Regions from separate parts of the Homo sapiens genome. Here region 2 is linked to region 1. A link means that fine-mapping ties the variant in region 1 to the expression of a gene that starts in the linked region. Tissue or cell type: whole blood. Region 1 holds a variant in brackets; the other region holds the start of a gene. All regions are shown on one strand. Distances are between the middles of the regions.

Evidence for each region. PIP is the estimated chance that this variant, and not a neighbour inherited with it, causes the effect.
Region 2: it holds the start of EXTL3, and the variant in region 1 is fine-mapped to the expression of EXTL3 in whole blood (TOPMed, PIP above 0.99).

The regions. Positions count from the first base shown.
Region 1 is chr8:28,758,383-28,762,548 of GRCh38, forward strand. No RefSeq gene overlaps it. Among named protein-coding and RNA genes, the nearest start is that of EXTL3, 59 kb to the left of the region's middle. The variant AT/A (reference allele first, on the strand shown) is at 1,761.
Region 2 is chr8:28,699,231-28,703,396 of GRCh38, forward strand. EXTL3 (exostosin like glycosyltransferase 3) reads left to right here and starts at 2,271. Exons shown (of 7, transcript NM_001440.4): 1 at 2,271-2,429. EXTL3-AS1 (EXTL3 antisense RNA 1) reads right to left here and starts at 2,234. Exons shown (of 3, transcript NR_126027.1): 1 at 2,130-2,234; 2 at 211-813. RefSeq lists silencers at 2,010-2,189, 2,260-2,329, 2,430-2,839.

The DNA.
Region 1 (4,166 bases):
CTGAGAATGATGATTTCCAATCTCATCCATGTCCCTACAAAGGACATGAACTCATCATTTTTTATGGCTGCATAGTATTCCATGGTGTATATGTGCCACATTTTCTTAATCCAGTCTATCATTGTTGGACATTTGGGTTGGTTCCAAGTCTTTGCTATTGTGAATAGTGCCGGAATAAACATACGTGTGCGTGTGTCCTTATAGCAGCATGATTTATAGTCCTTTGGGTATATACCCAGTAATGGGATGGCTGGGTCAAATGGTATTTCTAGTTCTAGATCCCTGAGGAATCACCACACTGATTTCCACAATGGTTGAACTAGTTTACAGTCCCACCAACAGTGTAAAAAGTGTTCCTATTTCTGCACATCCTCTCCAGCACCTGTTGTTTCCTGACTTTTTAATGATTGCCATTCTAACTGGTGTGAGATGGTATCTCATTGTAGTTTTCATTTGCATTTCTCTGATGGCCAGTGATGGTGAGCATTTTTTCATGTGTTTTTTGGCTGCATAAATGTCTTCTTTTGAGAAGTGTCTGTTCACGTCCTTGGCCCACTTTTTGATGGGGTTGTTTTTTTCTTGTAAATTTGTTTGAGTTCATTGTAGATTCTGGATATTAGCCCTTTGTCAGATGAGTAGGTTGCGAAAATTTTCTCCCATTTTGTAGGTTGCCTGTTCACTCTGATGGTAGTTTCTTTTGCTGTGCAGAAGCTCTTTAGTTTAATTAGATCCCATTTGTCAATTTTGGCTTTTGTTGCCATTGCTTTTGGTGTTTTAGACATGAAGTCCTTGCCCATGCCTATGTCCTGAAGGGTAATGCCTAGGTTTTCTTCTAGGGTTTTTATGGTTTTAGGTCTAACGTTTAAGTCTTTAATCCATCTTGAATTAATTTTTGTATAAGGTGTAAGGAAGGGATCCAGTTTCAGCTTTCTACATGTGGCTAGCCAGTTTTCCCAGCACCATTTATTAAATAGGGAATCCTTTCCCCATTGCTTGTTTTTCTCAGGTTTGTCAAAGATCAGATAGTTGTAGATATGCGGTGTTATTTCTGAGGGCTCTGTTCTGTTCCATTGGTCTATATCTCTGTTTTGGTACCAGTACCATGCTGTTTTGGTTACTGTAGCCTTGTAGTATAGTTTGAAGTCAGGTAGCGTGATGCCTCCAGCTTTGTTCTTTTGGCTTAGGATTGACTTGGCAATGTGGGCTCTTTTTTGGTTCCATATGAACTTTAAAGTAGTTTTTTCCAATTCTGTGAAGAAAGTCATTGGTAGCTTGATGGGGATGGCATTGAATCTATAAATTACCTTGGGCAGTATGGCCATTTGCATGATATTGATTCTTCCTACCCATGAGCATGGAATGTTCTTCCATTTGTTTGTATCCTCTTTTATTTCATTGAGCAGTGGTTTGTAGTTCTCCTTGAAGAGGTCCTTCACGTCCCTTGTAAGTTGGATTCCTAGGTATTTTATTCTCTTTGAAGCAATTGTGAATGAGCATTCAACTCATCATTTGGCTCTCTGTTATTGGTGTATAAGAATGCTTGTGATTTTTGTACATTAGCTCTTATGCTTACATAAAATTCATCTCAATACTGCCCAGTCTCTTCTAAGAAACCTGGCATTATCAGATTAAAAAAATTTAAACATAAAATTTGCCATGTTAGCCATTTTGAAGTGTACAATTTAGTTCCATTAAGTATATTCACAATGTTGTGTAACCCTCACCACTAGCTAGTTACAAAACTGTTTCATTGCGAACAA[AT/A]TCTGTACTCATTAAACAGTAACTTCCCATTCCCCCACTACTTCCAGCCTCTGATAACCTCTATTCTCTCTCTATGGATTCATCTATTCTGGATATTTGAATATAAATGAAATCATAAAATATGTGGTCTTTTGTGTCTGGCTTATTTCACTTAGCATGTTTTCAAGGTTCACCCGTTGCAGCATGTATCAGAATCTCATTCTTTTCTATGAGTGGATAATATTTCATTGTGTGTATGTTCCACATTTTGTTTTATCTGTTTATCTGTTGGTGGATACTTGGGTTGCATCCATCTTTTGGTTACTAAGGTGGTGAATAATATTGCTAAGAACATAGGTGGCCAAATATTTGAGTCCCTGCTCTCAATTCTTTTGGGTATCTATAGAGGAGTGGAGTTGCTGGACAATATGGTAATTCTGTATTTAACTTTTTGAGGAACTGCCAAACCGTCTTCCGTAGCGGCTGTGTCATTTTACATTCCACTAGCAGCGTATGAAGGTTCCAATTTCTCCACTTCTCCCAACACTTACTTTCTGATAAAAATTTAAAAAAATGGTACAGCCATCCTAGTAGGTGTGAAGTGGTACCTGGTCATGGGTTTGATTTTCATTTCCCTAATGACCAGTGTTGAATATCTCTTTATGTGCTATTGGCCATCTGTGTATCATCTTTGGAAAAATGTTTATTCAAGTCCTTTACCTACTTAAAACATTGGGTTAGGTTGTGGTGTGGCTGTCTGCTGGGATGGTATTGCATCAAATCCATAAATCAATAGGCAGAATTAAAATGTTAGTATTGAGTATTCTAATCCATCAATATGGCATATTTCTCCATTTATTCAAATCGTTAATTTTTATCAGCAAGGTTTTGAGACTTTTAGTGTAGAGATCTTACATATCTTTTCAAAAGTTATCTCACACTATTATGAATGAAGTTGCTGTTTTAAAAACATTTTATTTCTGGCCAGGTGTTGTGCCTCACACCTGTAATCCGAGCACTTTGGGAAGCCAAGGTGGGTCTCTATAAAAGTAAAAAGAAAAAAAAAATTAGCTGGATGCAGTGGCATGTGCCTGTGATCCCAGCTACTCAGGAAACTGAGGTGGGAGTATCACTTGACCCTGAGAGTTTAAGGCTGCAGTGAGCCATGACTGTGCCACTGCACTTCAGCCTGGGTGACAAAGTAAGACTCTCTCTCAAAAACTTGTTAATATATAAAATACAGTTGACTTTTGGATACTAACCTTGTATTTTGCAGTCTTGTGAGCTTATTCCAGTAGTTTTCTAGATTTCTTAGAACTTTCTATGTAAAAAGTCTCATCTGAAAACAGTTTTACTTCTTTCCTACCTTTATGCTTTATCTGTTTGTATGCCTGCCTGCCTTTTCCTCTTCAATTTTGCCTTATTGCAATGACTGGGACTCCGAGAACACTATAGAACAGTAGTATGGATCGGCACCTTGCTTTGCTCTCAATATTTGGGGAAAAGCTCTAGTATTTCACTGAGCTGTTAAGTTTTTCATACATAACCTTTATCAGGTTGAGTATGTTCCCTTTTATTCCTGTCTGCTGAGTGCTGTTAGAGAATTTCATCAAATGCTTTTTTCCTGTATCTATCGAAATGATCCTCTATTCTATTATAAATTAGATTGGCTTTCAAATATTTAATTATCCTTGCATTCCAGGGATAAACCCTACTTGGTCATGTCATATTATCCTATTTGTGTATTGCTGGATTCAGGTTGCTGGTAAGTTTTTTTTTTTTTTTTTTTTGCATTGATGTTCATGAGAGATATTTACCTCTCATTTTCTTTTTTGGTAATGACTTTATAAGGTTTTGGTATTAGAGTTATGCTGGCCCCTTAAAAGGGACTGGAATATTCCCCCTTCCTCTTTTTGATAGAGGTTATACAAGATTGGTGTTATTTCTTCCTTAAATGTTTGATAGTTTCCCAGGGAAACCATCTAGGCCTGGAGTTTTCCTTGTGAGAAGATAATAAATTTAATTTCTTAAGTGAATATCAAGTTCTTTTTCTTATTGAATGAGCTTTGTCTATTTGTGTCTTCAAAGGAAATTTTCCATTTTATCTGTGGTGGTAAATCTGTTGGCATAAGTTGGTGTTCTTTTTATCCCTTTAATATTTGTAGGCTCTTTAGTAATACCCCCCTTTCCTTTCTGATTGGCTGTCTTCTTCATATCCGTAGGATCTGTAGTGATAACCAAAGTTTTTTCACTGCCCATATGGGCAGTCGGTCCTGTCTTTCCTTGATCAGTCTAATGAGGTGTGTATCAGTTCTGCTGATGTTTTAAAAAATCAGCTTTTGGCTTTGTTAGTTTTCTCTGTTCTGTTTTGCTCATGTTTTGCTTATTTTTATGATTTCTTTCCTCTACTTTCTTTGGGTTTATTT
Region 2 (4,166 bases), 59 kb before region 1:
TACTGGGCAGCAGGGCCCCAAGCTCTGCTGTAAAGGACCAGCTTGCAGGTGGAGATGATGCAGGGAAATTGGTTGAAATTAGCAAGAAGAGAGTGTGAGAAGGAAAAAAGAAAGTAGCCCCAGTCATATCATTGGCAGAGAACACAAGGTAGGAGAAGGAACAGGAGCTAGAGGAGACTGAGACAGGGGAGCAGGAGAGTGCAGACTCACAAGATCAAAGCGGAGGGGGGCTCAGCAGCAGGTGAATATCCCTGTTCTTCCTAAGGCTTCATAATCTTTTTGTTGTTGTTGTTCCCTAGATGGAGACTTGCTCTATTGCCCAGGCTGGAGTGCAGTGGTGCGATCTCGGCTCCCTGCAACCTCTGCCTCCCGGGTTCAAGTGATTCTCCTGCCTCAGCCTCCTGAGTAGCTGGGATTATAGGCACGCGCCACCACGCCCAGCTAATTTTTGTATTTTTGGTAGAGACAGGGTTTCACCATGTTGGCCAGGCTGGTCTTGAACTGCTGACCTCGTGATCCACCTGCCTGGGCCTCCCAAAATGCTGGGATTATAGGTATGAGTCACGGCGCCTGGCCAGCTTCATCATCTTTAAAAGCAAGTAAGTCAAAGTTAAGGGCAGCAATGTGTTAAGTTACTCCAACGTAAAAGACTGAGTCGAACAGGTAGCAGGTAACTGCACGTCCTCTCTCGCCAGTGTGGAGATGAACCAAGGCCTGGTAGTTCTTCCCTGTCTTCTGTGGTGTCTCCTCCCACACTGCCAAGCCCCTGCCTGCTGTGGCCGCGTACCTTTGGAGGAGAGCCAAGTAGAGGAACTGTTAAAAAAAAAAAAAAAATTATGATACCCAGGCAACACTCACTCCATTTTCATTTCCTGCAATACTTCTGATTTTTAAACTTTGCCTCCTCCTGTCTTGACTTCAACAAATTGGTAACAGTAAGGGTTGCATATGTACACATATGATGGCGGTAAGACTTGGAAAGCATTTGTTTATAATAATCAAGAGGAAAGGAGAAGAAAAGTGAATAGGAGACGGGAGAGCAAGAGAAAGAGGATAGGAAAAGGAGGATCCGAGTCGGGACTAGTTTGGGGGTGGAGAGATGAAGAGTGTGCTCTAGGAAACAGGTTGCTATGGGTTTTTAAAGGTTTGTTTTGCAAACGTTATCCTTAGCCCAAGCTGTCCCCCGTGGGCATCAGTCTTCAGCATTTTCTCAGCCTCCTTGCTGGAGCACTGGGCCTGGGCTCCAGCAGAAAGGGCGAGTGGATAAGGTCGGCAGCTGCGAGCCTGTCTCTGGGGTGCAGTTCTTCTTAAGGCAGCCGACCACCCAAGCGCAGGGCCAGGAGCCAGCTCTACCCGGCTTCTCCAGGTCCTGTGTGTTTGGGGTTCCCTGGCGAGGAAACCCTGGAGTAGAAGCCCTGTGTTCTGGGTATTAAAAACATTAAAAAAAATACGTTAAGACAAATTTGATCGTAGCTCATACTGCAGTTACAGGTTTTAAAAGCTGGTTTCTAAGTTAAGCAGGTGACCAGGTAGGGTGCTTGCTCCCACCCCCATCCCCTGTTCCATTATCCAAGGGGTCTTATCCTGACTTCTCAAGTGTGGAAACACACAGTCACGTGTTCCTTGGGACTGTGGAAAACGTGCACTTTGGGGCTCACAGGGGCTGGCTTTTCAGCATTGACACGGTGTTCTTCTTTCCTGTCTTGTTTTGGTGATCATCCCACACGACTAGATTAACCTGTTGTTTTTGCAAAGCCCCAGGATTTTCCTAAGCGTCCAAGCCGCCCGGCCTTGTCTTTGTTATGAAATAGTCAAAGGGCTTCAAAACTGCAGGCAGTTGCCGCGCACGGCGCCCGTCCTTGGAGGCCTTTTCTCTGAGAATGGAGTTTTAGATTCAGGGATTTATGACTTGACTTTCCCGGGGCCGGCGCCCCTGCGGAAGCGGCGGTGGCTCGGGAGTCAGACCCGGTTCCCACGCCGCCGGGAGCATCCTCCCCGCCATCTGCGGTCGGGTCTTCTCGACAGGGCCCGGCGGCCTTTGCAGGACGCGAGTTGGGGGGCTCCGAAGGCGGCCGGCGCGCCCCCCCGCGCCTCCCACAATCCCCGGCGCCCGGCCCCGCGCCCCTGACCCGGGTGTCACCGCGGAGCTGCGGGAGGCCTCGGCGGTCTTCGGACGCGGTCGGGAAAGTGGCGAGCGCGCGCCCGCGTCCGCGCCCCCGCTCGCGAACGCCGGCTTCGGCCATTTCCGGCGCGGCGCCCTTCGGCAAGTTCCGCAGTCGCCTGTCGGAAATGGCTGCCGGCCGGCAGGGGGAGCGGCGGATCAGGCGCGGCCTGGAAGGCGGGCGGCCGGCAGCCAGAACGGCTTCTGGGACGCCGACTTTCGCGCAGGCGGCGGCGGCGGCGGCGGCGGGTCCCTGAGCTGGAAGCCGGTAGGACTGCTGGCCGCGCGTGAGCCCGAGGAGCGGGGGCCGCGCCCGGAAGGGCTCATGGGAGGGTGCCGGGGCTGGCCCCGAGCGCTGGGGACGCGGCGGGAGGGACCGGGTCCGCCGTGCCCCGGGGAGGCTGCTGCTGCCCGGCGGCGGGAGGCATGCAGCCTCCGAGCGGAGTAGGCCTGCCCGGTGGCTCGGGGGCCCGGGGAGAGGCCGCCAGGCCCTCGGCCGGCAGCCGGGAGGGCTAACGGGTCCCTGGGCTGGGGCACCCCCTCCCCGCCCCCACACGCCCTCTCTCGTCCCAGTTTGGGCTGCTCGGGACCCGCCTCCACCTTTTTTTGGACGCTCGGCTGCAGCTGTTGGGCTTCCTCTGCTCCCTGAAGCCCTCCACCCTCTGTGACCCGCGGCGTTTCTCTGGCTGCTGGCCCGGAGCATCTTCTGTCGGCGGAGGCGCAGCTCCGGACTACCCCCACCCCTTCCCGAGCACACCTTCCCACATCTGCCCCCCGCTTCTACACGCAGTCGCCTGCTGCCCTCCCCGCTGGCTCTTTTTGCCGGGCTCGCCTCCTTTCAGGAGCCACAGTCAGAGGAGCCGCTTCCTGTCCGAGGGTCCAGGTGCTGCAGGACCCTGGCTCCCAGGCCCAGCTCCCCTAGAGCCGGCCTCGCGCTGCACGGGCTGGACCGGACAGGGGTGCGCGGGGCGTGTGTGCGCGGCGGAGCTCCGAGCCCAGCGACGGGGACAGCACCTATTCCGAGCCCCTCGGAGGCGAGCCAGGGCTGCCCGGCTGCTGATGGGTGCTGCTTTCTCTTCCCCACATTGAGCGAGAGCTTCGGCTCCTTTTATTAATAAAATCTGTTTGGCTCTCAGAAGACTTAAATTTTGTGGATTTTGCCCCTCCCCCGCCACCCGCACCACCCCACCCCCGCCCTTCCCCGCAACCTGGATTTTTCTTCCCTTTTTAAAAACTCTAAAAGCTTCATCAAGTCCTCTTGGTTCGACTCCTTTGGTGGAGGAGGAAGCGCAGAACACCACAACATGTCCATTATTTCCCCCATATGTGATTTACTTAAGAGTCGTCTTTAGCATTTCTTGTCACTTTGTCCTATTCTTTGTCCAATTTAGGTAGCTTCATTTTTACTGGCAGAGCTCCCCGTGCTTTCTTTTGTTTTTAAAGGCTTTGTGTGTTGCAGCCATGCAGACTCTGCAGTTTTCTGTATTTTGTTCGGCAGTGAGTCCTGCATTCTGATACAGTGACTATCGCTGTGACCTGTGTGCTGGGATAGTAACTGCGGGGCACAGAGTCTGGAGCGAAGCGAAGCCTTCTCAGCGACTTGCTATTTAGCAGAGGGACTTTGAAATATTTTGTGATGAAAGAAAAACCGTTTTCTTAAACTGTTATTTGATGTGTTAAAAATACCTTATCCTGTGGGAATTTCCCATTCGTTTGCTTGTGGGGAGCCGGAGGAATCATAAGAACTCACGAGCAAGAGAGAATCGAGCCTAAGTGCTTTCTGGAAGAGTCAGAATTGTGGCTCTTCAGACTTCCGGAAACGTGCTTAATGTCCAGAGATGTGAGGGGCATACCTACCTAAAAAATGATTGACAGGCGTATGTCTGTATCCCTCCACTTCTCGCTTTTCTAGTGGGGGAAAACCCTGTTAATACTTGGTGTGTAGTTGGGATCTTTCAGTGATTAGGCCTCAAGAGTTTTGACCTCGGAGTAAAAAGATTTTAAG